Linked DNA regions of Homo sapiens. The protein of the gene in region 3 interacts with the protein of the main gene of each other region in a pairwise test. Each region holds a gene or a part of one and is shown on either strand. Other genes may lie near its edges.

Region 1 (7,577 bases), on a different chromosome or scaffold from region 3:
GGCTCTGACGTGCTGGTGGGGTCTGCCTGGCTGTCTGGTTTTGCCAGCCTGAGGGGTTCTGCCAAGCCAATGGCGTCTGCCAGAGCACATTGGGGGGTGCGCCAGGTGGGTTCTGAGTGGTCACTGGAACTGGTGCAGACCTCCAGGTCCCTGCAGCCAGTGGGGCCCGCCTCTGATCCCCACTGCTGTTCTCTTCAACATTCAAGTTATTAATCTGCATCATCAGAGAGAAGTTCAGAATCACCAGTGGGTTCTGTGTCCTCACCTTATCTATTCCAGGAATGCCCTCTAAACCCTCACCTGTAGTGACAGCCTGACCCACTAGCCATTGGTCACCCTGAGTCCTGGGTTTGTCTTTCACTGTCTTCCAGGCAGGAGTTTCATCTCCGAGCCAGGCCAGGAGCAACCCAAAGATGGGGCCTGAGGCTTCTCCTCTTCCTATGTCCACCACTGGTTCTGCCTGTACCACCCTGAACAAATCACTCAAGTCACTTCACCTCTCTGGCACTTAATTTCCTTCTTTGTAAAATTGGCACTATGATCCCTACCTGGTAGGAGGTGCCTTTAAGGTTTAATGAGACAACCTGTGTGAATGTGCCTAGCTCAAGGCTTAACACATGGTGGTTACTAACATAACAAAATGTAAACTGAATTACATACAGGTTGTATATATTATTTGTGTCCATGTATTATCTCCCCATCAGTTTGTGAACATCCGGAGGACAGGAATAAACATTCTCTTCAAATGCCCTATAGCCTAGCTGAATACAGTTACATACATTGTTTTGTTTAGAACAAATGAACACCCTCAGAGAAGAAAGGAGACAGCCCCAAAGCAAAATGAAGTTAGCAGAGATCTCACCTTGCGGGTCCTCTTGCCCCGAATTATTGTCCGGGACTCCAGATTCTGAGCCTGGGAACCATCTGCTGATGTCTGTGCAGTTGCACCGTCAGGTTCAGAGATACCTGGGTCGGTCTCTATGTCAGCCTGGGAAGTGGCCATTTTGGCCTGATTTACATTCTGGGTCTGGGTATCAGCTGTTGGGGCCTTAGTGGTATCATTCCAAGCCTTGAAAGGGGTCTTAGGCCTGCTGTTGGCCAGGTCATTGGCATTGAGAGACTGAGAGAAATTGTAGGTGGCATTTGGGCCCACTTTAGTAGTGGCATTCTGGGCCTTGAAGGCCATCTCAGACTTGTTAGCAGCTAACTCACCAGTGGTTGCTGCCTGGGAAAAATCATAGGCAGCATTTGGACCCTTTGGGGTAGCATTTTGGGACTTAAAGGCTGCCTTGGGCTGCGTGTTGGGCACATCCTTGGCATTATGAGCCTGAGAGAAATCATAGACACCATTTGGGCCTTTTGTGGTGGCATTCTGGACTTTAAAGGCTGACTTAGGCCTAGCGGCAGCTGCTGAAACCTGAATGTCAGCCATCTCATTGGCAGTTGGGGGCTGTGAACTCTGGGGACTAGCAGCTGCGGTGGCCTGGTTAGTAGGTGGAGCCTCTGAGATCTGGATGGCCTCCATCAAGGTCTGCATAAGCAAGGCGCTGTCTTCTACGGAGGCCTCAGCCTGCAAACACAGGGGGGAAAAAATTAAATCTCTGGGCCTCTGAGGCAGGAGGTGGGGTGGGAATAGGGAGCCCGGGTGGCAGCGCAGCAGCGGAGCTGCAGGCGGGCGGTGGGTGCAAAAACAGGGGGGCTGAGGCAGAGATCTAGGGGGCCCGCGAGGGGCGATGGGGGACCAGGCGGGTACTAAACATGTGGCAGGGGTGAAGTAGGGCAAGGGCAAAATGAGGGGTGGGGCGGTATGCGGAAAGTGGGCACGAACAGGAGCCGGGGACGCTCCAAGAGGCGTGCAGTAGCAGCTCAGGACGGCAGGCGGATCGCGGAGTTGAGAATAAGGGGGGTCGCACAGAGTGGGGAATGCAGAAAGAGGGAGGGTGGAGGCAGGAGGCTGGGGGAGGGGGTGACAGACTGCTCTACAAGCGTCAGGATTCTGGAAAAAAAAAAAAATGGTTCCTTACCCACCCCGCATTCTCTGGGCAGATTGCCCTGACTACTAACAGGGTCTCCCCTCTCTCTGAGCAGGGACTGATGGCTGAAAAGAGACGCCCCTCCCCCCCTTCGATAAACGATGGGAATTCGAAAAGCCCACGGAGTCTAGTCACTAAATAGGGTCAAACCGGATCCCGGCGTTTGGGAGACCAAAGAGGCCCGCGGGGAGGGGTGACTGTCGGCTGGGGAAATGGTGGGGTGGGGAGTGGAGATCTCACCTGGAAGCCGAGGAGGCCCGCACCACAGTCCATTTTCTGAGCCATGGCTCCTGTCCCTCTGGCAAGAGCGGAGCCTGGGGGCTGTGGGAGAGGGGCAGGGCGTTATACTACAGAGGGCAAATACGAAGGACCTAATTGGGAGGGGGGTGACTGTGGTCTGACTGTGCGGGCGGATAAGGTGAATGTGAGGAGGAACGGATCGGAGCGGTAAAAGTGAATGGGCGTCCAGATGGAGGTTCTGAACCCCGAGAAGCTACTGACAGGGCGAAGCTTCAAATGGGGATCGGGAAGCAGATGAGTTCTGAATTCGGAGCGGGGGTGCGGTTGGGTTGGGATTCGCATTTGGGAAGTTGCATGGAGGTTTTGAGTCAGGAGGAATCATCTAACAGTACAGATCGAGGTCAAGGAATCTGAGGATTTCGAACGATGGGAGGGATCGGACAGGGGTTTTGAATCAGGAAGGATCGGGAGGGGCATTGAATTGGGGTTTGGGGGGTGGAAGGGGATTCAGAATCCAGGGTGAAGGGATCGGGATAAAAAAAAATGGGGGCCCGCACCAGGGGGCAGATGCCCAGTCTGGGGGCTAATTCTCACCTTGCCTCAGGCCCCAACCCCAACCCCCTCGCTGCCTCCCTTCTTCACGACTCAGAGGATCGGGATTGCTGGGCTCGGCTCTCAGCAGCCGCACTCTCTCCTTGTCCAGGAGAAAATGCCAGCGCGGCAGCTTGGGCGACCCCGCCTCTTCGCCTAATATACCACCCACCGCCTCAGGACGTTACGCGCATGCGCAAACACTGAAGAGCCAAAGTCAGTCCCGCCTGCTTTCCCAACAAAAGCTTCGTCCTGGAGACCATGATGCGCATGTGCGCTGGAAGGCGGTCCCGCCCCCTTTGCCAACACACCACCCCACCACCAACCAGGTCGACACTATACAACAGCACCTCCCCTTCCTCTACGCCCCCTCCCCCACAGATGCGCTGTGCCTCTTGGTCCCACCCCTTGCCCCACACACCGGCCCCCTACCTTTTCCGCAATGCGTCTCTATTCCGTCCCTCCCCTATTCAAGGCCCCTCCTGTCAGGCCGGCTTGCATCTCCACCCCCTTGTCCAGCATGCTTAGGTCTCTGTTTGGGGTCTCTAATTGCAACAAGTGTTAGACCTCTGCTGAGGAAACGGAATGGCCTGAGAGGATACACTATTGGAGCTAACAAAGTAGTAGTAGTAAGTCTGTGGCTGCCACGTGACTCCATGATTTCTCCCTCACCCCCTGCCCGCCCCCACAAGCTCCCAGACGCAGAAAGAACGTTAGTTTCTTCCCTTTCTTTCTGCAGCTCCGGTGATGGACTCATTTTGTGTGTGTTGGGGGAGGAAAGGAGGGAAGGGCACAGCTTGTACATCACAGCAGGATTTGTGCTGGGGCTTGTCTTCCTGTCACAGCAGCCCTGGGAAGTGGATGTCAGCACCCCTATTTTGCAGATCAGGAAGCTGAGGCACAGATACATTGCATGAACTAGACAAGGCCACAGAGCCAGGAAACAAAATGCAAAATTTGGGTCTGGGTCTTCCTGACTCCAAAGCCCACATTCTGCTCATGCTGGCCTGGGGACTAAGGGTACCCCTCCCTCCTCCATTTGAGCAACAGACCACGGCACCCCATTTGTACCAAACAAGCAAAGTTTGTGTTCTAGGAGGCCCAAGCTCATGCTCTGCATTCAGGAGGACACAAGCAGAGGCCCCCACCCTCCCCCTGCCCTGTGTGGGTCCATCCAGGCGTGGGAATTGCTCCTTGGGGTCCACTCTGTGCTCAGAACATCAGGCCTCTTCCTTATCAGGGATACAATCACACTGTCCCTGAGGCCTTCCTGGTGCCCACTGGAGCAGCCAGGACAATCAGACCTGTGTGTCTGAGCCATGGCAAGCCCTGGTTCCTTTCAGGGCTGGGGCCTGGGGCAGCTGTGGTTTTATGGAGAGAAACTGGGCTGGGCTTCAGAATTCCAGGAATGGAGTGCCCAGCCTGTCTGTCTCGAGCTGTGTGAGCCCGCACGGGTCACTCAATTCTCTGGGCCTGGTTTCTCAATGTGCAAAGTGGAATGCACAGCAAGTGGGTCCTACCCAAGGACACACACGCTGCTATGCTTCCAGGATAACTGGAGAAACTCAAAAAGGCAGAAAATTAAATACAGATGTGAGGTGACTCAAATTAAACTGGTACAGTTCCAAAATTCAAGACAGATCTTTGTGCAGTTCACATTTGTTCTGGCATCAACTCATGCCAGAAGCCTGAACATGAAAGGAAGCTAATGCTAGGAAGGACTGCAGCATTTGGTCCCCAAGGGCCAACATCAGTTCTGCCTGGCTGGATGACTTTCCTCATCTGTTGCATAGCAACCTCCTCTGTCAGCTGCCTGTTTTTCCTCAGCACTTCCTCTGTAAAGTGTCTGCAGTGAGACGTGATCAGACTCAGGAAAGGAGGTCAGAAACACCATTTTCTATGCTATCTGTTTCCATATCTGTATCTTCGGTCATGACTTGGCCTATGAATTCTAGATCCATAGTAACTACCTACCTCACTTCTCCAAATGGATATCTCTCAGTATTCTCTAAATTAACAGGTCCCAAACCGATTCCTTCATACGCCTCCTCCTTCCCACCAACACAGTGTTTCTCCTCTAGTTATGCCTTTCTCCCCCATTTAGAGTGTAAACCTCTTAGGGAGACAGATTTTTGTTTTATTCATTGTTGTTTCCCCAGCACCTAGAACCATGCCTGGCACATTTTTATATCCTCAATAAATATTTGTTAAATGAATGAATCGCACTCTCCATCCCATTGCTAAAGCAAGAAACCTGAGAGGCAATTTTTCCTGTGATCAATTCACTTATTTTTCCTCATTATACAAATAATGCACACTCATCACTATACATTCAAACACTGCCTAAATATTTTAGAAATTAAATAAACATCACTAAATCTCATCACCTTGGACAATTGCTTAGATTTGGTGCTACCTTTTCATACTTTACACACATATATGTTGTTACATAAATGATGTGTTATATATGCCAGACCTTAAATTGCATTCTTTTCCTTACTGCTTCCCACTTCCTTTCAATTCTACCTTCACCTGCCAAACACTTGTTTTTAACACCATTTGATATCCTTCCATACTCAAAAGTTGTTTTTTATTTTTACAAATTTAAGATTACATGAACTTTTATGTGTCTGAATTATCTTATTTGACAACAGTCTACCTGTGATTCGTTCTTTTAAATGACTGCATAATATTCCATGGTAAGAATGTACCACAATGTATTTAACCATTCCCCCATGGATGGAATCCATTTTAGTTTCAGGATTTTTGTGGGGAGCGTGGCAATACAACAACATTGCAATAAAAATACTTGTACATGTATTCTTATACTTTAATAATTAATGTTTGTCTTTATTTCCGTGACACCAGAAGCCCAGGAGTAAGACTGACATACTCTACAAGACTTTTCCTTTTTTTTTTTTTTTTTGCCAATCTTATGTGTATTTATTGGTATCTCCTTATGGTTTTAATTTATATTTCTGATAAGCAATGTGGTAGAACACATTTTTATACATTAATGAACATATTAGATTTATTTTGTAATATGCTTGTATATTTTACCTGTTTTTCATTTGGGTTGTCTGTCTTACTGACTTTTAGGAGTTCTTTATATAGCGTTATAGATCCTTACTGAAAACCCTTGGGGCCAGATGTATTTCGATTTTTAACATTTTAGTAAGGTCATATATATTCTTACTTAACAGTTCCAAGTGCAAAAGCCACAAAGGCCAGATATTCACTTCTTCACATGCCCTTGGCAGCTAAGAGAATGTGATCTAGGATTTACCAGTGTGGCAAGCTCCTGAAGACCATCCTCAGATTCAATGATTTGCTAGAAGGATTCGGAGAACTCAGAAAAAGTGTTATGGCTATTGTTTATTACAGTGAAAGGATACAGATTAAAATCAGCAAAAGTAAAAAGTGCATAGGGAAAAATTCAGGAGAGACCAGGCACGACTTTTCAGTTGTACTCTCCCAATGGAGTTGTATGGCCAGTGCTTAATTCCCCCAACAATGATGTGTGAAAACATGTATGAAATACTGTCAACCAGGGAAGTTCACCCAAGCCTTGGTGCCCAGAGTTGTTTTTGGGGTTCAGTCAGATAGGCATGGAGCACCTGTGTGGTTGACCTTAGTTATTCAGTCTCTAGTCCATGCAGAGGTTAAACTAGTATCTCTCAGCCCAAGGCTCACACCACAAATCACACTGTTAGCACAAACTATCCAGTGTGGGCCAAGGCCACAGTAAACAAAGACACTCTGATCAGGCAGGATACTTCCAAGGGCTTACAGATTATCTCCCAAGAGCTGGTCAAGAGCCAAAGCATTCTTTGCAAAAGACCTTTTTTTGGAAAGCATAGGGTTTGAACATTGCAGACCTGCTGAGTACAACCCTTTCACTGCAGTTACAACTTAGACCTAACACTTTGTTTCAAAGGAGTGATTCAAATATGCAGTGATGGAATTCACCACCATAGTTGTGGTGGTGGGAGCAGCAGCCACAAGAAAATCCAGTTTCTAGGGGCAGCATTAGTGGCAGGGCTAACATCCGGTGTCCACTGTTCAGTAGCGGCAGCAATGGTATCCAACCAGCTAATACATATGGCTTTTTTTTTTTTTTTTTTTTTTTTTGAGACAGAGTCTCACTCTTTCACTCAGGCTGGAGTGCAGTGGCATGATCTCAGCTCACTACAACCTCCACCTCCCAGGTTCAAGTGATTCTCCTGCTAGAGCCTCCCGAGTAACTGGGATTACAGGCACCCACCACCACGCCCGGATAATTTTTCTATTTTCAGGAGAGATGGGGTTTCACCATGTTGGCCAGGCTGGTGTAGAACTCCTGACCTCAGGTGATCCACCCACCTCAGCCTCCCAAAGTGTTAGGATTACAGGCATGAGCCACCATGCCCGGCCCTATGACATGATTTTTGAAATATAACTGATGCCCTACTGCTTTTAGGTAATATTTTATTAATTCTGCTTTTAAAAAACTTTTTAAACTTTTTATTTTGAAATAATTACAGATACACAGGGAATTGCGAGGATAGTACAGTGAGGTTCTATGTACCCTTTATCTGCTTCCCCAATGGTTACATCTGTGTAACTGCAGTACAAAATCAAAACCAAGACACTGACATTGGTACAATATGTGTATATAGTTCTATATCACCTTATCACATGTGGAAGTCTCTACAAACACCACAGCAATCAAGA
Region 2 (7,000 bases), about 17 Mb from region 3:
AAGCTTTCAAAGGGAGAAAATTACTTCACCGAAGATTACAGTCCAGCCCTCCTCTGGAGCTGGGAGGTACTTATTTTGACTTGCATGTGATTCTAAGACAGCCCATTTTTTGGCAGTGAGCTGTGTGAGGCCCAAACCAGGGCCATTCTGATTATGGGGTGGGGCAAGCCAGAGAGCTAAGCAGCAGGCTTTTTTCTTTTTTTCCCTTCCAAAGCTGTTGTGACACATATTGAAAATTAATTATCTGAAGACAAAGTACAAAGCAAAACCTCCCAACCAATGGTCTTATACATGAAAGCTAAATGTATAAAATCCAAGAGAGTGGGGAGCGTGCATTAATTGGATATATGTGATGATGATAATGATGATGATAATGATGATGGTGATGGTGATGATGAGGGTAGCTAGCATCTATTAGGTGCTTTCTATGTGCTATACACAGTGCTAAGAGCTTCACATATATCACTTTATTTAGTTCACATAATAACCCTATGAGGTGGACACTATTTTTATCCTTATTTTTCAAATGAAGAAAATAAGATAGAGAATAATTATAAAATCACAGCAGTGTCACATAGCCAGGAAGTGGTGGAGCCAGATGCTGAACTCAAACAATGTTGTTCCAGAACCTAGATATTTTTTTTAAGCTGAATTTTAAGCTGATTACTCAGTGTCTGTCTCTGCGCTAGATACTCAACATAAACTATCTCAGTTACCATTATGGAGAATATAAGCCCCTTCTAGCAGATGAAGAAACCAAGACTCAAATTTTGGTTCTTGCCCAAGATTTCCCACTATTAAGTAGCTGAGTTAGGATTTAAACTCAAGTCCAAATCCTGAGTTCTTCCCACACTACTATGCTATGTCCATTTACAGCTCAGCTGTGGCTTGGGGTACTGGACAGAGCATTAAATGTGGAACAGACCAAAGCCCCATGAAACAGTTTGGCTTGTAGGATTGTCTCAAGCTGAACAGGTTCATAAAGATGAGGGTTTAATACATTGATCTGCAAATGGTGTAAGTCATCTTTGTTTTCTAGAAGAACTTCAATTTTAGGATGATGTTTGCTGTTATCCTGATGAATGGCTCTTGTCACCTCTAGTTTATTCACCAAATTTTTCAAGGCAAGGTTGAGCACGTGAAATACAACTTAGGCGGGGGGTAAAATACCTCGTGGGGAATCATCCCAAGGAGTCTGCCTATAGTCCCCAACTTTTCTTTTTCCTGAAACATTGACTTTGCTTTCAATATATCAACTCCCGAAGTAGCTTTGCAAGAGTGAACTTCTAAGTGAATCGTAGGTGGTTTTGCATGGCATGACATATTATTATGTGCTATTGCACTGATACAAAATGTGGCAACCTACACAGTGTGTTAGGTTCTTTAATAAAAATACCTGTTAACAAAATACACTTTCAAAATACCATATTAGCTTTCAGTAACTGTCTAACTTACGTGTGGGCTAAGACTAATTCTGAGGTAGCCTCAGAATCCATTTATGAGGTAGCCTCCGAATCCATTTATGAGTGGAGAAAACTGTTTACCATTTTAATGGTTTTGACCATGCTGTTCAGAACTTAAAAAAGGAGCCTTTTGGGAATGGCCTTGCAGTCCTGTGTGTTTATAGAAAACTAAGAAGGTATCTGAAAATTGAACACGTTTGTCAAGAAGTGACCTTAGAAATCATGTCTGGGTAACAAGGTGTACTTCTGTCTCCTAAGAAGGTTTGCTTCATCAGCTCCTCTTTCTTTCGATCAAATCAGATGTATTGAAATTCAAGTGCCAAAAGCCACTTCTAGTAAATGTAAGTACATCTCTCTCAAAGTAGCTGCTGATGGAATCTGAAGTGATTTGGTGGCAATCCACATGCTGCAGCACAGGTGCAAACAGCACAGCCTCAGAAGTGAGTGCTACACATCTCTGGGCTTTGAATTTCACATCAGAAAGGATGCAGGGTGCAGGGTCCTTTCTGGCTAGACGAAAAGGGCTTCCTCTGATCTTACATCTCGATCAATCTTATTTCAAGCACTGCTTGTTTTTGCTTCTTAGTCTGGCTTCTCTGTGTGTTTGATTGGTGACCTCTTTAGATCTGCAGACTGTAGGCAAATGCAGTGACATTTTGCTTAAAAGATTAAAGCATCTGGACCATGGCTCACTGAGAAATTATCAGGGTGGGCAGAATGTGTCCATCTCAAAATGTTGATGCTTCCAGAAACTAAATGCATGCTAAGTAGCATGGACCATGCCTCATTCTATCACCACCAACCACGCAGAACATATTATTAATAAAATAATATGATCAGTTCCCACTTCTCACCCCTACCCCTACCTCCCAGGATATGTCAAAGGTCATGCATCCATGAGAAAAGGCAAAGTAGAACGTAGACACCAGGCAAAGGGACATGGTGCAGACACTGGTGATATAGCTCAGGCAAGAAGAAATAGTGCAAACATCAGGAATACAGTTCAGGGAAGGAGCGATGGTGCAAACATCAGCAATACAGCTCAGGCAAGGAGACATGGTGCAAACATTGAGGATGTGGCTTCAGAAGTGAAGAACAACCAAAAGGGAAAGCAGATAGCTTAAGGGTAAAGGAGATAAAAAGGACAGATACCTACCCAGACCTGCGCTATCTAGCTACCGGCCTGTGGACTTATATTATCACCACTGGGCTCCCCACTGGGCTCACCAAATGGATCACTGTTGGATGAGGCCTGTGATCCATCAGGCTAGAACACAAGAAGATAATACTTTTTTTTTTCTCTCTTTTCAAGCATTGAAAATATAAGACACCTGGATATACTTTCATGCAGCACAATCAGTTATTGTAAAGGAGGGTGCAACGGCATTTAGAGGATGCTACACCACAAATGTGGACTTGTAGTAACAATTTAATAAAAAGGCAGTCCTTTTCAGCTGACTCATTTGAACACAAAAGAAAGCCCCTTTAGCAACCCCTTGAGAACTTATGAGATTGAGCCAGCATTCTTTTCTATGTAGGCTTCCTCATGCATTATCCATTTCAGTTACAGAGGTCTTAATTTTAAGGAAAAACACAAACAAATAACAAACTGGTCACTTACAGCTTCTTGCTCTTCGCTTTTGCTGGGACTTTCAAAGCCCTCTTCAAAGATGTCATCTGTGGTAGGATCACTGGCATGGGATGCAGATGATTTGGATGGAGAGCTCTGTCTAGGGGCTGGGGTTGGAGCTACACAGAGACCACAGAAAAAGAGACATCTTAAGTGCCTGGCTGCCATGAATGTATCCCAAAGAAACCTCAGGAATCTGCTTATATTGAAGTCAAATCTTAGGATTCCTCTTCCTATTTCCAGTGGAATCAGTTGAATATTTGAATTCTCTCTCTGTACGTATTGATCTTTCCTCTCACACATCTGACTTCAGGAAGGAGCTCGTCCACACTGATAGGTAAGGCAGTGGTTCTCAAAGGATGGTCCTTGGACAAGCAGCAGCAGTAGCATCTGGGAATTTGTTAGAAATGAAATTTTCTGACCCTACCCCAGATCTACTGAATCACAGACTCTGTGTTTGAACAACCTGCTACAGGTTATTCTGATGCATGATCAAGCTGAGAACTACTGGGCTATGGTTTGCTTTCTTCTTTCTGTGTTTCATCAGAGGGCACGTTATTGAGCGCCTTTCATGTGTCAAACACTGTTAGAAACTTTACAGACAATATCTCTAATCCTCATAAAACATCTTTGAGGTAGAGGTTATCCTAATTTGACAGGTAAGGAAAGTGAAGTTTGCTAATTTGCTCATGGCAACTGGTAGAACCAGATTCTGAATCCTGGCACATAGGAGGTATTCAATAAACACATGTTGAATAAAGAGAAAGTGTCTCAGTGATCTGGGAAAATGGATGTAGCTGATGGCAACTTCACAGCTGGTACTTGATTCTATAAGGACAAAGGATACGCATTTTCTGGGCTGACCCACCCACATCTCCTCTCATTTGTTTTAGAGGTTTAGAACAAATATGCCATTTGATACCACTCTTCTTTTAATAAATTCTAATTTGTCACTGAAAATACTGGTTACTGGCTAAGACCCAAGTGAGAGGGTGGCATGACTTCATTTAGCAGCTGAATTTTCCTAATGTTATAGAACTTAGAAATCAGACAGTGAATGATTGTAAAACTTAGTGCATACTTTTTACTCTGATGAATCTATATATAGAAAGATGATGCTATTTCCTAACTTATTATTTATAATGTGCCAATGAGTTGGACACTGTGCTAGGCACTTCCCATTCATTATACACCTTAATATAAATACCTGCAAGTTGTTATCATAACTTTTTTGTTTCCCAGATGGAGAAATTGCAGCTCAGGGAGGTGAGGTGTCTTGCGAAGGGTTAACACAGCTATGAAATAGCAGCACTGGCATTTAACAGAGCTCTGTCTGACACTATCCAGTCCAACTGTGCTTTTCTGTTTCTATTTGAGGTTCACTTTTGATCCAACCAATCCTCTTCCCAAAACATTCTTAAGGGGATACTGATGGGTCAGAGGATATAAAGACTGGTTCTAATTTTGTTCAAAATAAAACAGCAAGTTTTTGGAAAAAAATTTGCAATGAAATCTGTTTTGTTTCAGGAGATGACTATGGAACAAACTGTATTGAAAGTGGGTTTAAAGCTATATGCAAACACCCTGAAGGGTAGTAGATGTTTAATAAATATTAGCTTAATTAGATCCTGAATTGTATTTGAAGTGGATTTTTGCTTACTAAAGGTTGAGAACACAAGCTGAGTTGCCAGTTCTGGCAGGTATACTGCTCAGACTTACCTAATGAAATCAATGGAAAGCATAAGCAGGAGTTTATTTATGCAGGTGTCTTAATCTTTAGAAGGCTTTATAGGATGCTGCTAATACTCTAAAGCAGTGGTTCTCAGTCTGGGGCAATTTCATCCCTGGGGTACATTTGGCAATGCTTGGAGTCATTTTTCTCGACACTAGAGGAAGGGGATATACGTTTCTCTCATAGAGTGATTAGAGGCCAGCGTTGCTGCTAAACATCCTACAATGGGACAGCCTCTGAAACAAAGAATTATCTGGCCCAACATGTCCATAGTGCCGAGGTTGCCAACGATGCTCTAAAACATAACAGTAGCTAAGTCATCTCCATTTTGTTTATTTCATTCTCTATAACCTTTCCCAAATGCCTCTCATGTCCCAGGCACTAAGCTAGCATTATGAGAAGTGTAGGAATGATGGAGCCAGTTCCTGCCCTCAAAGAACTTAAACTCTCCTCTTTCATTTGTAGCTGGCACACAAGTCCATTGAAAGAGAGATGTTTGTTTTTAAAAAGATGCTTGCTTATTTATGCATGGCTGTCATTTCTTTAACATTTCATTTTTTATTCATTATTCCTCATTGAAACCCTGTGAGTCTGCATAAATAGAGATGCTGCCACTATGTAGATCATATGGCCTGAGTGCAAGTGGGTTGTTTATACACGTTAAGGGCATTCATTTTCAGAATAGCATTCTGAACCTGGCTGAAATGGCACAATCTAATTGTATTAACATTAGGGGTGTTTTTTTTTGACAGTTCACAGTATTGGCCATGCAGTGATCCATATCACCTGTGACAGTAATGAAACCGCCAAACTCACTGCAGCATGAGCCTTTTCTTTCCTCTTATCAGGTGTCAAGGCACAGGCTGAGTCATCAGAACACCTTCCCTGAATTGTGTCAAACAAGTGTACATGTGCTCAAGTGTATCTGGATTCTGATTTGGCTGCACAGTCACTGTTTTCCAGATGTTTGCAGAAGAAATATGAGCTGGAGGAGACTCACTGAAAGCTGGAACTAGAAGGATGCACACTGCTCATCCAAGCCAATTCACTTATTTTACCAATGATAAAACTGAGTCTCAGAGAAGTCATACGCTTGCCCAAAGACACAGCTTGTGGTGGAGGAGTCAACACCAGAACTCTGGTCCAGGACTGCAAAAAAACACTTAACATGTGCTAATAATGAGGATAAAAGATACTTCAAATTCTGGGAGTTCTATAATGTTTGAGCACATATACCATTGAATCCTTTTAATAACCCATCGCTTACACAGATGAGGAAACCAAGGCTCATAGAAATAAAGTGCTTTGCCAAAAGGCACAAAACTGGTCAGTAATAAATCTGATCTCCAGGTTCCCAGTCCAGAACTTTCTGCAGCACTATCTTTTTGTTCCCTTTAACTACCAGAAGCTTTAACCCAAAATGAGGCTTCAACTATAAAAGCTATTTAAGACCTTATGGCTGCGTATCTCTGCCCTAAGTTTTCTCTTGATCCTTATTTTATATTCTAATGTTTAAAACTTGTTCCCCAAATTTTTAAAGTTTGCATTCATTTTATTTCAATAAGCCACGCCAAAATCTGTGTGTCATAAGCTATCTATACGTAAATAAATGAACGAATGAATGAGCAAACAAACAAAATCTTAAGAGGCAGAGTAACATGGTGGAAAAATACCAGGCTTACATTCAATTCAATACCACTTTGTCTATTGTCTTCATCTTTGAGCCTCACTTTCATTATCTGTCAAACAGGTCTAACAAAATTTATCATTAAGCATTATTATAAGTCTAAAAATAAACATGGAACATATGAAGAAGGTTTGTATGTTATCAGTGGTATCTAAATTGGCAGCTCATAGTAGTATTACTAGTAATAATAATATAAACAAAGAAGCCTGATTAATGCAAGTGAGATGAGTTATTTGACTCCAGAAACCCCGCCTCCAGACATGAGTTACGGCTCTCATTGGGTTTTATGTCTTAAGTGAGGGGCACTCACGTGAGTTGGTCGATGGTGTGGTAGAAGTCACAGGGGTCAAATTCAACTGGGAGATGTCAAAGTCATCACAGTCGTCTGTATCCTGTGCCACCCCGACTTTGTTGAAGTAACTGGAGAAGGCCTCTGAGGTACAGGTGAGGGAGGGCTGGTCGGGTTTGCGGGAGGGCACGGGCGGAGG
Region 3 (6,475 bases):
AGCCTCCCCAAACCTTCACACCTATTATTGCTGATTGAGAAAAAATAAGACCTTACAAAAATGAACCAAACATGGAAGCTGACATTTGTACACAACTACTACAGGAAGAAAATAGAAAATGAAAATCAAAACATTTCACGTAATGAATATTCTCCCTCAAAAAACAGTCATGAAGCAGAAGAAAATTGTTACACAATCTACCAATCTGAATTAAATGTCCTTAAACATTTGCAGATAAGACAAAACACCTTAAATCAGAAATTCAAAAACTTAAAGCCAAAATGGATAAAAAACTGCATGCTGTGAAATGAAAGTTTACTAAACTCAGAAAAGAAATTGAAGAAAAAGCCAAAATTTTCGTATAAAGACTCAATTACAAGTTAGCTAAAGAACAATAGATTGAGCTGAAAATATATTCGGCATTGAGGAAAGGCATGAAACAGCTAAGAGAATGAAAACTAAATATAGAAAGTAGTAAAAAGAATTAGATGGAAATTAATATGGAAGTTAGGCAAAGAAAACTTACATATATTTGGAGATGCCCAAAGAAATAAAGACAAAATAAATAAAATATGGGACAGTATTAATGTGTTTAACACCAGAAAACATTCTAGAAATAAAAGACTTGGATATAATATGGAAAGAGCCCACTGTGTGTCTGGGAAAATTGACCCAGAACAGTCAACTTTAAAACATATCCCAGCAAATCTACAGACTTTAAAGAACATTCAAAATGTTTAGGGGTCCAACCTTTTCCATACCTCCTACCCACAAAAATCTGTTACTTAGAACAAACAAAAAATACCCAGGTTGACATCAGACTTCCTAGCAGCAAAATACAAAAAGAATAACAAGGAGAGTAGTATTTTAAAGACACTCAAGTGTATGCAAGACACAACAAGTATTTTACAACCAAGCCAGCCAAGCTATCCTTCAGGTATCAAGGCTGTAAAAAATAAATATGCAAGAACTCAGAGAATATCACACTTACAAGACTTTCCTGGGGAATCTAACAGAAGATAAGCTTCATCCACCTAAGAGATGACTGGGGTCATTTTCATTTTTGGCAAAAGAACTGATGGTGAGAATTGAATGTTTAATTGAGAATCTAAGACTAAAACAAAGGTGGTGACAAGCGTTGCAGAATATACATTATATTCTGACAAACAAATACAACTGAAAATGAAGGAGGAGGGAGAAAAGTTGAATAATAAATATTGTATGGGAAAGAAGTAGAAATCGAAGGATGCAATAAGCTGACAAACCAAATCACGGAAGCTTGAATAAGGAAAAAGGAGACCAAGGACATTGCTAAAAAGTATTACTATGAAGGTAATCACTAGAACAAACACGTGAAATGTTCTGAATACCAAGATAATTTTCTTCCTTTCTTTTTTTTTTTTTTTTTTGAGACAAAGTCTCACTCTGTCACCCAGGCTGGAATGCAGTGGCACAATCTCGGCTCACTGCAACCTCCGCCTCCTGGGTTCAAGTGATTCTTCTGCGTCAGCCTCCCGAGTAGCTGGGATTACAGGCACCCGCCACCACACCCGGTTAATTTTTTTTGTATTTTTTAGTAGAGACGGGGTTTCACCATGTTGGCCAGGCTAGTCTCAAACTCCTGACCTCAGGTGATCCACCCACCTTGGCCTCCCAAAGTGCTGGGATTACAGGCATGAGCCACTGCGCCCAGCTGAGAATTTTTAAAAACAGACTACAAAGTGCAGCAAATACAATAAACACAGTAAAAATCTAATATGATGGAGTTGAGACCAAACATACCAGTCATACCAGTAGGCAACTCTTCTATCAAAAGAAAATGATGTTCAAATTGGCTAACAAAGCAACACTAGTTTTGCACTAGGTACAAAGAAATACAAAGTGATTTAATGTGAAAACCAAGAGACAGGCAAAGGAACCCCAGAGAGGTGGTATGGTGCATGTGTACTGCACATGTGCATGTATAGCTATCTTTATCAGGGTTATACTTATTTATAAGAAGTACTTTTATGTTTTTGTTTCTCTGTGGTCCAGAATAATTTATGTAGCTCTGGTCTTTGAAGGTTTTGTGGAATTCCCATGTGAAGTTTGTGGGCACTATTGCTTTTTTTGTAGCAAATCTTTGATACTTTTCTCTGTTTCTTCTATGGAAGTCAATTTTGGAAAACTGTATTTACCTAGATTTTCCATTTCGCCAAGGTTTTCAAATTTATCAAAAGTTATGCCTAGCAGTCTCATTAATTTTTTTCAAAGAACCAGGATTTCGATTTATTGGTGCTACATTTTTCCGTTTTCTACCTCAATTTCCGTAGGCTTTCTATGGGTTTACTTTGTTATTTTCTAGCTTTCATAGTGGAGATTTTAATTCACTTATTTTCATTGTTTCGTTTTTATTTATATAAGTAATGGAATGCTATAAGTCTGATGGGAATATGTCAGAGGGACGCATGAGCCAACTTCCAGTGGCTCTGACTGGCCAAATGTGAGACAATTTGAACATCAAAAAGAGTAACAACAGTAATGGATTATGACACACTGAATGGAAAAAACAAAACAAAACCATGAGTCCACGGTGATATTTTTTAAAAACCAGGTGTGGAATGGAGGGAGGAAAAGCCTTCTTTACAGAAGAATGACAGTAGTTGTAAAAAGAGCAAAGGATTGACACATTTGCAAAGAAATGCCCTTCAGATTATTTATTAATTATAATGAAAGAAATATAGTCACTACCTCAGCCAAGTGATCAAACATAAAATTACTGACAGAGGAACAAAGTAATGTCATATGCTTCCTGATATTTTGTACTAAGAAAGACATGTGTCACCTCCATAGAATCTTGCCAAAAATATTGAACCTCGATCCAATTATGAGAAAACATGAGATGAATCCAAATTGAGGGGTATGCTACAAAATAACTGTCCTGGGTTCTTAAAAATGTCAGTGTCAGGAAGAAATGGAAGGAAGTGTTAGGGAAACTGGTCTAGCTTAAAGGAGACTACAGAGATCTGAAAATGAAATGCCATGTACATTAGAATATGGTGTTAATGTTAAAATTCTTGAGCGTGTTCATTGTTTTGTGGTTCTGTTAAAGTGTTCATTCTTATGAGGTGCCTCCTGACTTAGGAATGAAATGTCGTGATAGCTGCAGCTTTTTTTTTTTTTTAATCTGCAACTTTTGATACTCATCAAAAAAATGTAAGTTTTTTTATAGGGAGGGAGAGAAAATATGGCAAATGTTAACAGTTGGTGAATTTAAGGAAGAAGATACATGGGTTTTATTGTACTATTGTTTCAACTTTTATGTCAGTTTGAAATTTACTTTAAAAGTTGGTACAAGAAAATAATAGTTTCTCCTAAAGAAAAATAACTTATATAGAAAATTTACTAGGCTTAGGAAATTCAAGGCATTTTTCTCCATAAAGTATTTTTCTGTTCACTGCTAGGGGCCAGTCTTTCCATCAGATTCATGAAGGACCCCCGCCCCATCCTGCCCCAGGCCTTATTCCACTGACTGTTTTCTCCCAGCTCCTTCCCTTCTTATACACTGAAGACACATTAGTCTTCCCCCGCCCCCGCCCCGCCACCGCCTTTGTTCATTCTGAACAGTCCAGTTCCTTTTTTTCCCCCTTGTGCAAACGAGCAAGCCTGCTCAAGCGCTTTCCCTGACACTGACAGTAATAGCTGTGCTGAAGATGAGGCGGGAGCACTGGGGAGGGGGCTTTCCTTTCAGCTTTTAGGATTGGCCAGGCAAGTTAACAATAGGCCCCTTCTATTTAGGATGAGGGACTGGAAAGGAAAAAGAGAGGAACTCATGCTGATTTTCTGTCGACTAGATCCAGATGCCAGGATGCCTTCTTTCCCTCCCTGAGCTTTAGTCTCCGTCAGCATTGCACTCCCAAAAGGTCATTCACGTACGTGGCCTTGAAATGATCTGACTGCTAAGGTCCAGGGTTTACTGTCCATAACAGAGTTTCCCTTTGTCTCATTCTCCCCATCCTGGCAGAGAAAGGGACTCTCACCCTGCCTTTTGCACTAATTGGCGGAATGCCCACAGCCTGGTCTGAAAGTCTCCTCTCTCCCTTTCAGATGACCCAGCAGATGGCTGGGATGAACTTCTATGGAGCCAATGGCATGATGAACTATGGACAGTCAATGAGTGGCGGAAATGGACAGGCAGCAAATCAGACTCTCAGTCCTCAGATGTGGAAATAAAAACAAAACACCTGTATGGCTGCCATTCTCTTCAGCCCTCGCTCTCCCCTTTCCACAGCCTCCACCCCTGACCCCCATCCTCTTTTCCTACCTCTCTGTTTGGTTTAGAAATTGCTCAATAAGTCATTTGGGGTTTGGCATCCTGCCCAGCCACTTCCCAAACATGAAGACCTCTCTGTTGCTTTATGTTGTACATGCCCCATAGCCATCCCAACGTCCTCCCCAGTCCTCTCCTGGCACCAGCACCTTAGAAGTTGTTGGCAGAAGGCACTTAAACTGTGGGAGAAGTGTGCACACCTTTGAGTCCCTTCCCTCAAGGTTAAAGCTCCTGTCAGACTCTCAGAAGGGTCTGTGGGTGTTGTATATTAGGCAAACAGGGGAAAGCTTAGAGGTCCTTCTATATGTGTTAATAAGCTGTTTCTAAGTGTTTAAATTTGAAAAGCATCATGTTCTCATGATTTATGGGAATGAAGCAAGTACTGAAATCAAATTAAATACTCCCTGGGTCCTGGGTCAGTTTGACCCTAGCCCTGGGGTGAGGCAAGCCCCCTCCTATGAGGATGAGCAAAAATACTACTCTCTTCGCCCTGAGTTGCTTTCTGGATCTGGGGCTTCAGGACTTGCTGCTTCAGTCAGCCTTTATTAGCACCAAAGACTTTATGAAGATCCCACACACAGACACACATCCCTTCCCGCCTCCCCCCTGCCTTCAGTAGGATCTGGCTCCGTGGCTGGAGGACCAACCCCTATAGTGGGAATGCAGAGCTTAACGTGTACTGCTTGTGTGTGTGCGTGAGTGTGTGTGTGTGTATGAGTGTGTGTTCCGCCTCCCACCCTCTCCCCATCTGCTCTGGGTATTTTTGTTTTTGTTTAGTTTTAGGTTTACAACAGAGAGGAATTAATTTATCAGCAGCCTAAAACTGTTGTGTTTTTCTTATGGTTTAAAAAACGCCATGTCATTGATAACTCCCTTTCTCCCTTCCCTTCTCCCGGTCTGCTGATCACTCTTTCATGCCTGTGTATCCAGGGTGCTCTGTTTCCCCACCGTTCCCAGGTGTACGAGGCAGAGGGCCGGGACAGCTTTCCTCTCAGTCATTGTTCACCCCACTTGAAAATTCAGACAAGAAAACTTTGCTTAAAAGATTTCATGTGTGGGAACCACAGTTCCTGGCTGCCTTTCTCCTGTGTATGTGTAAATTCCTTAATAAATATTGCAGGGAAGGACTGTTTGCTTGGCCATTACTGTGCGTCACTCTTGGAGGAGGGTGCGTTACACTTAGGTTTTCTGTTTTCCAAAGGCAATTGTTTCACTTCCTGTATTTTAGAAAATTCTGTACTTCTCATACCCAAGGGTGAGGCCCAGGCTCCAGCAGTCAGAAAGGGGGCCTCTCTCCACTGGCATCTAGAGCTGTGAGCTGAGAGAACTCCAGAGATCAGCACCTTCTAGAGTCACAGAGCATCAGAGCGGCATGCTTTCCCCCCACAGGTGGAGAAACTGAGACACGGAGAAAGGACATGGTTGGCAAATGTCCACTAGAGAACCCTGGGCAGAACCGGCAGTAGCCTCCAAGTGTCTGGATTTCCAGCCCCTTGTTCTTTCCCTATACCATGGCAATTAAGTAGTGAGTTGAAATTCCTCTCTGCCAAGAGAGCAGTAGCTTTGGCTGGTAAAGGTAACTCACCCCTCTCTGAGCTATCAGAACTGGACCTTCCGTATCAGTGTCAGGAATTAGGACACTCAATCCTGGGGGCAGTACGAAATACAAAAGGCCGAAGACCATCTTTAGTGCATTTCCTGCTCCCTTTGACTCCTTTTCTGCTCTCAACAAATGTGATCCTTGGACCCTTCCTCCCTTCTTTCCTTTGAGTACACCCTTTGAGTCCTTAAAGATGTAAGTGGGAGGACAGCACAGTGACTAGGAAAGTTGGCTCTGGGTCAGGCTGCCAGTGTTCCTATCCCTTCCTACGCTGGGACCTGAGCAAATTACTGAACTCCTGTGTCCAGGTAAAATGGGGACAATGGTAATACTTAGGATAGTAAGAAGCAGTTCCTGTGGTATATTTAGCACACTACTGGGCACTTACTAAGCACTCAGATATTAGCAGGTATTACGTGCCAGATCTGTGTTAGGCAGTAGCTCATTTGACAAACATTTAATAAGTGTCAGTAATGTGCCAAAGAATGTTTTAGGCTCTAGAGACAAAGCAGTGAATAAAAACTGTCCAATCTCATAGGATAGTGTGGTAGGAGAAATGCATAATA

The links.
Region 1: the proteins of SMAP2 (region 3) and MAGED1 interact in binary tests that used the Homo sapiens proteins (3 or more experiments, as listed by UniProt).
Region 2: the proteins of SMAP2 (region 3) and DAB1 interact in binary tests that used the Homo sapiens proteins (3 or more experiments, as listed by UniProt).

The regions. Positions count from the first base shown.
Region 1 is NC_000023.11:51,889,046-51,896,622, reverse strand, and holds the start of MAGED1 (melanoma-associated antigen D1), read right to left. Parts: upstream 3,001-7,577; 5' UTR 2,868-3,000; intron 2,355-2,867; 5' UTR 2,319-2,354; coding exon 2,274-2,318; intron 1,997-2,273; coding exon of another isoform or gene 1,829-1,996; intron 1,571-1,828; coding exon 863-1,570; intron 215-862; coding exon 1-214. UniProt on the Homo sapiens protein: Involved in the apoptotic response after nerve growth factor (NGF) binding in neuronal cells. Inhibits cell cycle progression, and facilitates NGFR-mediated apoptosis. May act as a regulator of the function of DLX family members.
Region 2 is NC_000001.11:57,008,061-57,015,060, forward strand, and holds part of DAB1 (disabled homolog 1), read right to left. Parts: coding exon 6,823-7,000; intron 6,638-6,822; exon of another isoform or gene 3,213-6,637; coding exon 3,085-3,212; exon of another isoform or gene 2,731-3,084; coding exon 2,635-2,730; 3' UTR 2,620-2,634; exon of another isoform or gene 1-2,619. UniProt on the Homo sapiens protein: Signaling adapter of the reelin-mediated signaling pathway, which regulates the migration and differentiation of postmitotic neurons during brain development.
Region 3 is NC_000001.11:40,417,890-40,424,364, forward strand, and holds the end of SMAP2 (stromal membrane-associated protein 2), read left to right. Parts: intron 1-4,086; coding exon 4,087-4,212; 3' UTR 4,213-5,433; downstream 5,434-6,475.